2 separate regions of the Homo sapiens genome follow, and region 1 is linked to region 2. Evidence: fine-mapped expression QTL. Tissue or cell type: whole blood. Region 2 holds a variant in brackets; the other region holds the start of a gene. All regions are shown on one strand. Distances are between the middles of the regions.

The links. PIP is the estimated chance that this variant, and not a neighbour inherited with it, causes the effect.
Region 1: it holds the start of SHISA4, and the variant in region 2 is fine-mapped to the expression of SHISA4 in whole blood (TOPMed, PIP 0.96).

Annotation. Positions count from the first base shown.
Region 1 is chr1:201,886,818-201,891,745 of GRCh38, forward strand. SHISA4 (shisa family member 4) reads left to right here and starts at 2,081. Exons shown (of 5, transcript NM_198149.3): 1 at 2,081-2,250; 2 at 2,628-2,799; 3 at 3,637-3,770; 4 at 4,584-4,751. The coding sequence starts at 2,178. RefSeq lists enhancers at 1,574-2,083, 1,924-2,218.
Region 2 is chr1:201,937,104-201,942,031 of GRCh38, forward strand. All of the region lies in intron 1 of LMOD1 (leiomodin 1), which reads right to left. Among named protein-coding and RNA genes, the nearest start is that of LMOD1, 7.0 kb to the right of the region's middle. RefSeq lists an enhancer at 4,348-4,928. The variant C/T (reference allele first, on the strand shown) is at 2,366.

The sequences.
Region 1 (4,928 bases), 50 kb before region 2:
TCTCCCAGTGCAGCCAGTTCTCCCCTCTGGTTGGCCCACAGCCCCCTCTCTTCACTCTCTGTCCTAGTCTAGTCACCTCCCATCCCATGAACTGAAACACATTCTTAGAATTTTGCAATTAGAAAATCACTGATGATGTTGGTGCGTGCTAGGTGTCATTGCAAGCTGGAAGTGTCAACTAGGGGTATACACTTTGAGGAGGGCGTGTCAACTAGGGGTATACACTTTGAGGAAGGCTAGTTGGAGAAAAAAGCAGGAAAGTAGCTAGAGAGGGATGAGTTTTAGGAAGGATGTGGTTTGGTTTGGTTTGCTTTGCTTTGCTTTGCTTTAAATAGGAGAGACTTGAGATTTCCTAGGGAAAAGAAGCTGGTAAGGTGTGAGAAGCTAAAGACACTAAAGAGATGGGATAATGAAGAGACAAATCAGCAGGGGTCAAGGGTACACATGGGAGATTCAGCTCTGGGCAGGAAAGACAGTCCCTTATCTGAAGATGATTCAACCAACAATGACAACACTGATGGCTAGGGCTGGATGGCCACATTGAACACAGCCACGTGGTCCCTGCAGTCATGGAGCTTTTAGTGTAGGAAAGAGGAGATGGATGGCAATGGGCACACTGAGTAGGTGGTGCTGGATTCAGAGGCGTTTCTCTTTGTCCCTGCTGCTGCATTTATGACTGTGTCCTGCGTGAGGACATACTCTTGCCCATCAGGCTACCAGCAACTTTCTGGGGCAGGAGCCTATCCTCTCCTATTCCAGCTCTCTTGGGTAGGTGTGCCAGCACCCACAGGGGCCCAGGATGGGGTAGCTCCTCTTTCGGCTGTCCTTCCCTAACCTACTAAGATTCTACTGGGCCTTCCATGGACCTGTCCTGATTCTCTCACCCCAGAACACAAGAAATACTCACTGTCTACACTGTCTGCTGTTGCGGCTGGGGATCAACCCTGATTTAGATTTGGGTCTTCCTGATGCCTCTACCATTTACTGGCTGTATTACCTTGAACAAGTTCTTTAACCTCCATGAGTCCTAGTTTCTCAGTCTGTGAAATGCGATTGATAACACTGATGAACCTTGCTTAGTTCATGGAGTTGTGGAAAGATTCCAGTGAGGTAGATGTGGAAGCCCAGAAGTGTGTGAAAGGGTGTACATGGCAGGGGATTAAGGTAGGCTTTTGATGATCTCCCTGGCTTAATTTGCAGTTCCTCGGAGGGTACCTCATGTAGCATGGGGCATAGTCACTGGCACTCAGTATAAACCTGTGAAGACTGACCTCTCCCATCCTAAAACACTGTCTCCACCTGGAATTAACTGTTGCCCACCTGAAATTAACTGTTGCCCTCCCTATGCTCCGGTGGCTATTGCAGTACAGGCTTGCTCTGTGAAGGGCTTTCACTGTGAAGAGTGTTTAACTGGATGGGCCCCAGGTGGCCCCAGCAGCCTGCCTTCCCTGCTAGTGAGGCCATGGGCTGGTGCATGCCAGCTCTGTCCACTTGAAGGGGGAAGGGTCCATCGTAGGGAGCCAGTGCAGCTGGCAGGGTTCAGGCCTGTGGGCACCGCTGGGGACAAAGCCACTCTGAATGCCTCTCAATGAGTGCTTGTGTTCTGGGAATGGGGGCGGGGTGACATCCAGCCTCTTTCCCTCTCCGCCCCCGACAGGATGTCCCAGGCTGGACGCGGCAGAGGAGGTCCCCCACAAGTGAAGGTCCAGCCCTGCTCCTCCAGGGTTGGCCCATGTGTCTGGGCATTCGGAGGTGGCACCAGGATCAGGGCTTCTGGAGTCCAGCATAGTGATTGGGCCCAGGCCGGGGGCGGGTCCAGGACACAGCCAGGCTTCCCTGGCCGCAGTGCCCAACTGCCCGCAGTGCCCATGGTGGCTCGGATGGGAGGAACCACCGCGGAGCCGGGGACAGGGGGAGCAGGGCAGTGCTCTGCTGGGTGAGGGGCACCCAGCTCCAGAGGCTAGGTGGGCGTCGCTGGTGGGTGGACTCCTGGGCGCTGCGCGGAGCCGCGCCGGCTGGGTTAGCGCGGGCGGGGCGCTTAGTCCCACCCCCAGAGGAGGCGGAAGAGGAGCCCGAGCCTGGCCGCGGGCTGGGCCCCGCCGCAGCTCCAGCTGGCCGGCTTGGTCCTGCGGTCCCTTCTCTGGGAGGCCCGACCCCGGCCGCGCCCAGCCCCCACCATGCCACCCGCGGGGCTCCGCCGGGCCGCGCCGCTCACCGCAATCGCTCTGTTGGTGCTGGGGGCTCCCCTGGGTAAGGGGATGGGGAGAGATGCGGCAGGAGTGGGATGGGGGCGGAGGAAGGGGAGGGACCGATCCGAGGGGCTTGGGCTCGGGGCTTCTCCGAGACCCTCCGGCTGCCACGGGAGCCTTGGGTGTTGCTGGGTCCTCAAGAAGCGGGAAGAGGGAGCTCCAGGATGCTGGGCCATGGGAGGCTGATCCCGGGGTGCAGGGTCAGCTTCAGGCAGAGGCCTCGGGGGCTCTGGGGCTGAGACCCTCAGGGTGGAGACAAGGGGCAACCCTCAGTGTTCGGGAGCCGTCAGGCTGGGGACCGCCGGGGGAGTGGGGCCGAGCGCGGCTGGGGATGAACTGGCCTGGTGGCCACTGGGCACCCCCAATCCCTGCCCGCAGTGCTGGCCGGCGAGGACTGCCTGTGGTACCTGGACCGGAATGGCTCCTGGCATCCGGGGTTTAACTGCGAGTTCTTCACCTTCTGCTGCGGGACCTGCTACCATCGGTACTGCTGCAGGGACCTGACCTTGCTTATCACCGAGAGGCAGCAGAAGCACTGCCTGGCCTTCAGGTGGGTTCCTGCCTCCTCACCCTCACCACCTCCTCTATCCTTTTCTCCAGAGGCCTCCTCTTCCTCCCTCCCGGACTCCTGCCTCCTCCGTTGTCGACCTCCACATTCTTAGCTGAATAGAGTCACCAGGACTCAAGCCTGGCGGCAGAGCTAGGTGCTTAGGTGCTGGTGCCTGGGAGTTCCAGAAAAGGCATGTTAGTTACCTTCATAGGCTTTGACTGGGCCCGGGGTTTCCAGGTTCTTTCTGGAGCCCTCCCTTTGGTCCTGCCAGGTCATGGGGAGGGAGGGTTCAAGGTTAACACCCGGACGACAGTGTAGCTTTGTGGAAGAAGCTCTGGCACAAAGGCAGGAGACTTGGGTTTGATTCCCAGGTCCACTTCTTACTAGCTGTGTGATCTTGGAGAAGACACTTGCCTTCTATGGGTCATTGCTTGCCAAATTAGTGGTTGTCAAACTTTTTTTTAATATATCATATATAAAATAGATATAGAGACTTCTGATTGAAGCGGGGTTTGGAAAAAATGGCTCTAGATTATTTCTAAGGCTCCTTTCAGTGTTATGCTGTATGTCTAATCATTTAAGTTGTAGATATAAAAGCAATGGTTGGGGGCGCACTGCAAATCCCCGTATGCTTCACACTAGCCAGCCAGGCAGCATAGCCTTCTGGGAAGTGGAGGTCCTCTAAGATCTCCTTCACAGGGACTGGGCAGAGCCCCACAAGGAACCCCAAATCTCAGCATGCCATGGCCCCCCTGCTGGCCAGGAGTTGGAGCCAGCATAATGAGGACTCCGTCCTATGAGTGTTGGAAGGTGAGAGGACCTGTTCTTTGTCTAAAGCCCCAAGACCATAGCAGGCATCGCCTCAGCTGTGATCCTCTTTGTTGCTGTGGTTGCCACCACCATCTGCTGCTTCCTCTGTTCCTGTTGCTACCTGTACCGCCGGCGCCAGCAGCTCCAGAGCCCATTTGAAGGTACACCCAGTACTGGGCAAGAAGGGCCTCAGATGGGCTGGGCTAAGTCCAATAATGGGCAGCAGAGAGTTCATGGATTGGGTAAATTCTGTAGTAGTATGTGCTTCTGTATACACACACCTGCCAGCATGAAAACCCAGAAAAATGCTTGTAAACCCGTGAATATTAGAATGTGCCTGGGATATATGGAACATCAGACTTTGTGTGCATTTCTGTGCATACACATGAAGATTCAAATGTGTACAGGAGTGCAGTCTGTCAACAATAGTGGGTGCAGTGGGTGTATGCATACATATGACTCTTAGTAAGTACACGGGGTCAGGTCTGTAGTGATGAACATTAATTGAGTGTGCTCCAGTGGATGGCAAAATATGTGCCTGAGTGTTGGCATGTGATGCACATATGCCACAACCTGATGGACATGGGGACAGTGATGCCATACGGGAGATCAGTGTGGGAGGGAAGGGCTAGGAGAAGACCCTCTTAGTGGCAGCTCTGCTGGATTACAGGATACCAGCCCTGAGCTGTCCCCTTCTTGCCCAAGTGAGATATTCCCTGGGCTGTGCTCCCTGGTTCATGAGGTCTCTGAAACCTGCTGAGGGGAGCAAACTTGCTCAACACAGATTGACCAGCTGGGGCCACGTGCACAGCTCCCTGCTTAACTCTGCCAAGCAGGGTGTGGGAGGCAAAGATGGCCAGCCTGGAGCTTGCCAGAGGCCAGCACCAGGGTGCTTACCTTGGTTTCCTGGGCAGGAGGAGGAGGCTTCCCATAGGAGATGGGTCTCTGAATGCTGATCCTTCTCCCCCATCTAGGCCAGGAGATTCCAATGACAGGCATCCCAGTGCAGCCAGTATACCCATACCCCCAGGACCCCAAAGCTGGCCCTGCACCCCCACAGCCTGGCTTCATATACCCACCTAGTGGTCCTGCTCCCCAATATCCACTCTACCCAGCTGGGCCCCCAGTCTACAACCCTGCAGGTAAGTAAGCAATCTGGAGCCCCTTGCTGCTGCCTTCCCCCACCCCTTGCCCTGCGACCTCCCCTGTGCCTCTCTCATTCTCAGATTCCCTCTCCCAGACTTCCTCCACCTCTAGCCCGAAACCTCCAGGCCCACTCTTCCCTATGGGTCCTGTCTGCCCCGGGGGCAGGGGTGTTA
Region 2 (4,928 bases):
TACATATGATCTGCATATGGAAATATATATATTGTCTGTCTCACCCATTAAAATGTAACCTTGGCCAGGTGTGGTGGCTCATGCCCGTATCCCAGCACTTGGGAGGCCAAGGCAGGAGGCTCACTTGAGCCCAGGAGTTCAAGACCAGCCTTGGCAACATAGGGAGACCCCAGTATCTACAAATAATTTAAAAATTATCTGGGCGCGGTGGGACACACCTGTAGTCCTAACTACTTGGGAGGCTGAGGCAGGAGGATCCCTTGAGCTCAGGAGTTTGAAGCTGCAATGAACTGAGATTGCACTACTCTACTCCAGCCTGGGCAACAGAGTAAGATCCTGTCTCAAACAAACAAACAAAAAAAAACAAAAACAAAAAAACAAAAAACACAGTGGCTCATGCCCGTAATCTCAGCACTTTGGGAGATTGAGGTGGGCAGATCATTTGAGCCCAGGAGTTCGACACCAGCCTGGGCAACATGGTGAAACCCCATCTCTACTAAAAATACAAAAAAATTAGCTGGGCATGGTGGTGCACAACTGTAGTCCCAGCTACTCTGGGGGCTGAGGCGGGAGGATTGCTTGAGCCCATGAGATGGAAGTTGCAGTGAGCCAAGATCATGCTACTGCACTCCATCCTGGGGAACAGAGTGAGATCCTGTCTCAAAAACAAACAAACAAACATAGACTGTAACCTCTATGAGGGCAAGAACCTTGTCTCTCTTGTTCACTACTCTATCCTGGCATTTAGAAAGTACATAATAGGAACTCATTAAAGAGCTGGCAAATTAATGATTTAATGGAGTCCTCCTCCCTCCTTGTAAACATAAAGCATGATTCATGAATTCTGTGTATAAAACGAATGAAGAGAATGGGAATGGGAGGAGCGGATAGGAGTGAAGGGAAGGGAGGAAACTAATGTTCATGGGCCTTTACTACTAGGTTTCCAACCCAGCACTCTGCTTAGTGCTTTATGTGGATTATTTTGCTGAAACCTCATAACTATCCTATGACTAAGCATTGTAATTTCCTTTTTTTTTTTTTTTGAGATGGAGTTTCGCTCTTGTTGCCGAGGCTGGAGTGCAATGGCACCATCTCAGCTCACCACAACCTCTGCCTCCTGGGTTCAGGCAATTCTCCTGCCTCAGCCTCCCGAGTAGCTGGGATTACAGGCACGTGCCACCACGCCCGGCTAATTTTGTATTTTTAGTAGAGACGGGGTTTCTCTATGGTAGTCAGGCTGGTCTCAAACTCCCCACCTCAGGTGATCTGCCCGCCTCGGCCTCCCAAAGTGCTGGGATTACAGGCATGAGACACCGCGCCCGGCCGTAATTTCCATTTTATAGGTGAGGAAACTCAGGCTCCAAGACGTGAAGTCACTTGTTTGGGTCATTCAGCCAGCAACCAGCAGAGCTGGATCTGCACCCAGGTCTAGCTGGCCCCTGAGGAGACTATTCTAACCACTAGACTCATATAGTCTGCACTCAGAGCTTCCCTGGGAATTTCTGCCTGAGGATGTAGCACCTTTCACCTGCCAGTCTCAGGGACAGGGGTCCTGCCAGCCCTGCCGGCTTGATCTCAAAGGAAGGCCTATTGAAGTAACAATCAGAAGGAGCCTGTGGGCTGTCCATGAAAGGGTGGTGGAAGGGTGTGGGAACAGGAGGTGCTTCTATTCCTAGCTGTTTGTAAACAGCATCCCGACAACCCGGCTTGTTCTTTCTGCAGTGGGCCCCAGGGACAGCTGAAGCCAAGTTCTCCCAAAGCAGCCTTGGCTTTTCTGAGCTTGTGCTGGGGTGGAAGCCTGCAGACAAGGAGAATCCACCTCAAAATCTTCTCCTAATCTCCTTTCACTCTGTCTTTTTCCAACCCAGCAACTCAGTTTGGGCCCCTGAGCCTGTGACATAAAATAAATTAGGCAGAGGCTCAAAGAAATCAGGCTGCTGGGGCCAGGCAGCGAGTAATTACATAAGCCCTGCCTCCCTGCTTTCCTTCCTCCCCTTCCCCTCTCTCTTCATCATTCCTTCACACTCACTGATGGTTTTTTTTTTTTTTAATTTCGTGAGAGATAAAATAATGTTGATTTGGCAGATATACAGGTACAAACTCTGAAGAGTTTAGAGTGAGGAAAGAAGGTCTCTCGTGATGTGCCAAACACTTTCAATGCCTCATCCTATTTAATCTTCACTATAACCCTTCAAGGATGATTTTATCATCCCCACTTGACAGGTGAAGTAATTGGGCCTCAAGAAGCTATGTTAATGAGATAGCATCGATAAAGCCTTTGGCTCCAGAAGGCACTCAATCAAGTTAATGTTCTTTCTTCCTTGGGTAACTTATTCCAAGTCACTGGATCAGTAAGGGGCAGGAG[C/T]AGAATTCAAACCTGGACCTATCTGATTCCAGACACCCCTGGGCTTTCTGTCTCACCGCACTGCCCAGACACTAACAAGCCATTGGGAGAACTGATGAACCGAATGGAGACCACTGCTCTTTTGCTGGTTAAACAAAAGTGGTCCAATAAATAAGGAAGGGCCTGATCTGGAAAGGCCTGCATTCTATGGCTCAGGATATTCCTGTTTATCCAACTTGGCAGGCATGTAAATATTAGCGTCGCCACTCCTGTCCCCCATGCATGGCGCTGTGTGTTGTTCCTCTGCTCCTGCTGTGTGTGTGTGTGTGTGTGTGTGTGTATACACATGTGTGTAGACTGCCTATCTCTTGGTGTGCTTCATTCAGGCTCTGCACACTCTGGGCCCAGCTGTAGATATGCTGACACGGTCTGACAAAGATACTCTAAAGTCTCCTGGGGGAGAGAAAGAGAGACTGAAGGAGGATAGACAGATAAGACCGGGGCTTTGTCCTCACCTTCTTGTCCCAGCCTGGGGACCATGAAGCTCCCAGAATCCCTGAAGCCTCCAGCCTTCTCTGATGCTGGGAGCAACCTCCCCTTGGTTAGTGGGACTCAGACCCCACCTCTTAACCATCTATATCCCGCTCTCACTGGTGAGCCATCTTATTTTACAAGTGCTCCTTGGTCCTGTCCATCTGTCCTGCCTCCCTCTTGCATTTTCCATCCAGCCAAGCTCTTTTTTTTTTTTTTTTTTTTTTGAGATGGAGTCTTGCTCTGTTGCCAGGCTGGAGTACAGCGGCACGATCTCGGCTCACTGCAACCTCCATCTCCTGGGTTCAAGGGATTCTCCTGCCTCAGCCTCCCGAGCAGCTGGGACTACAGGCATGCGCCACCACACCCAGTTAATTTTTGTATTTTTAGTAGAGATGGGGTTTTACCATGTTGGCCAGGCTGGTCTCGATCTCTTGATCTCGTGATCCACCCGCCTCGGCCTCCCCAAGCACTGGGATTACAGGCATGAACCACGGCACCCGGCCTAACCAAGCTCTTATACCTACTGTCCCAGTAAGGAGAAGGCAGGCACCCAGAGGGCAGCACTGAGGGTGGGAGCAGGCACTAATGCCTCACTTGCTCAAAGTCTTTTTTTTTTTTTTTTGAGATGGAGTCTTGCTCTGTCAGCCAGGCTGGAGAGCAGTGGCTCGATCTCAGCTCACTGCAACCTCCGCCTCCCGGGTCAAGTGATTCTCCTGCCTCAGCCTCCCAAGTAGCTGGACTACAGGCATGCACCACCACGCCCAGCATTTTTTTTTTTTTTTTTGAGACGGAATTCTGCTCTTGTTGCCCAGGCTGGAGTGCAATGGCACGATCTCGGCGCACCGTAACCTCCGCCTCCCGGGTTCAAGCAATCCTCCTGCCTCAGCCTCCCTAGTAGCTGGGATTACAGACATGTGCCGCTATGCCTGGCTAATTTTGTATTTTAATAGAGAAGGGGTTTCTCCATGTTGGTCAGGCTGGTCTTGAACTCCCAGCCTCAGGTGATCCACCCGCCTTGGCCTCCCAAAGTGCTGGGATTACAGGTGTGAGCCACCGTGCCTGGCCATTTTTTTTTTTGTATTATTAGTAGAGATGGGGTTTCCCCATGTTGGCCAGGCTGGTAAAATTCTTTTTTTTTAATTTAATTTTTAATTTTTTAGAGATGGGGTCTTGCTATGTTGCCCAGGCTAGTCTCGAGCTCCTGAACTCAAGTGATCCTCCTGTCTCAGCCTCCCAAAGTGCTGAGATTACAGGTATTAGCCATCACACCTGCCCTCAAAATTCTTTAAATATTATATACATACAGAAGAAAACGTATAATAACAATATTTAAAACAAACACCTGTGGATTGTACCACCTAGTTTAAGAAACAAGCAGTTGCTTTTTCAAACTCTGGATGGAGGCAGTTTCAAATTTCAGGGCGAGATTTTAACAGTCTAACCCTCTCCGGTGCCTGCTTTTGCCTCCCTGGGTCAACAGGCCCCCGTCACCTCTTCTGCCCTCTTCACCCTAGCCTCCAGGGCTATTTTGGGTGTGTACCAGTTGGGGTTAATCTCCTTAAGCATTGAGCCGTGCTGCTCAGTGCACTCCTGATAGGTCCCAACCCTCTGCAAAGGGCATTCTGAGGGTTAGGCCGCCGGCCTCGGGCCTTCCCGGCCCCGTAGAGATACCATGGACACTGAGCTGTGAACTAGAACCGATGGGGGAGGGGGCTGCTGAGGCTGTGCAGGCAGTGGGAGTGGAAGGTCAGGAGGGCTCAGGCCCAGCAGCCGCTATTAGTAGGTTGCTTCGGGTTTGCTTCTCGAGTTTACCTCTAGGGAGAGCTTTCCTCCACCCCCACCAGCTCAGCTGCCCTGACCCTGGCTGGGTACAGGCGCTAATCCCCAGCCCCTGCTAACACCAGGGAGAAGGGAGGGGGAGGCAGGCTGGAGATTTTCTTTCCCACTTGGGAAGGAAAGAGGACACACAAGTTGACCGGTTGGGATCCGGTTCCTGAAACCTGAGACAAGGACAAGAGTTTCACTGAACCGTTGGCTACAGCTTGCCCAG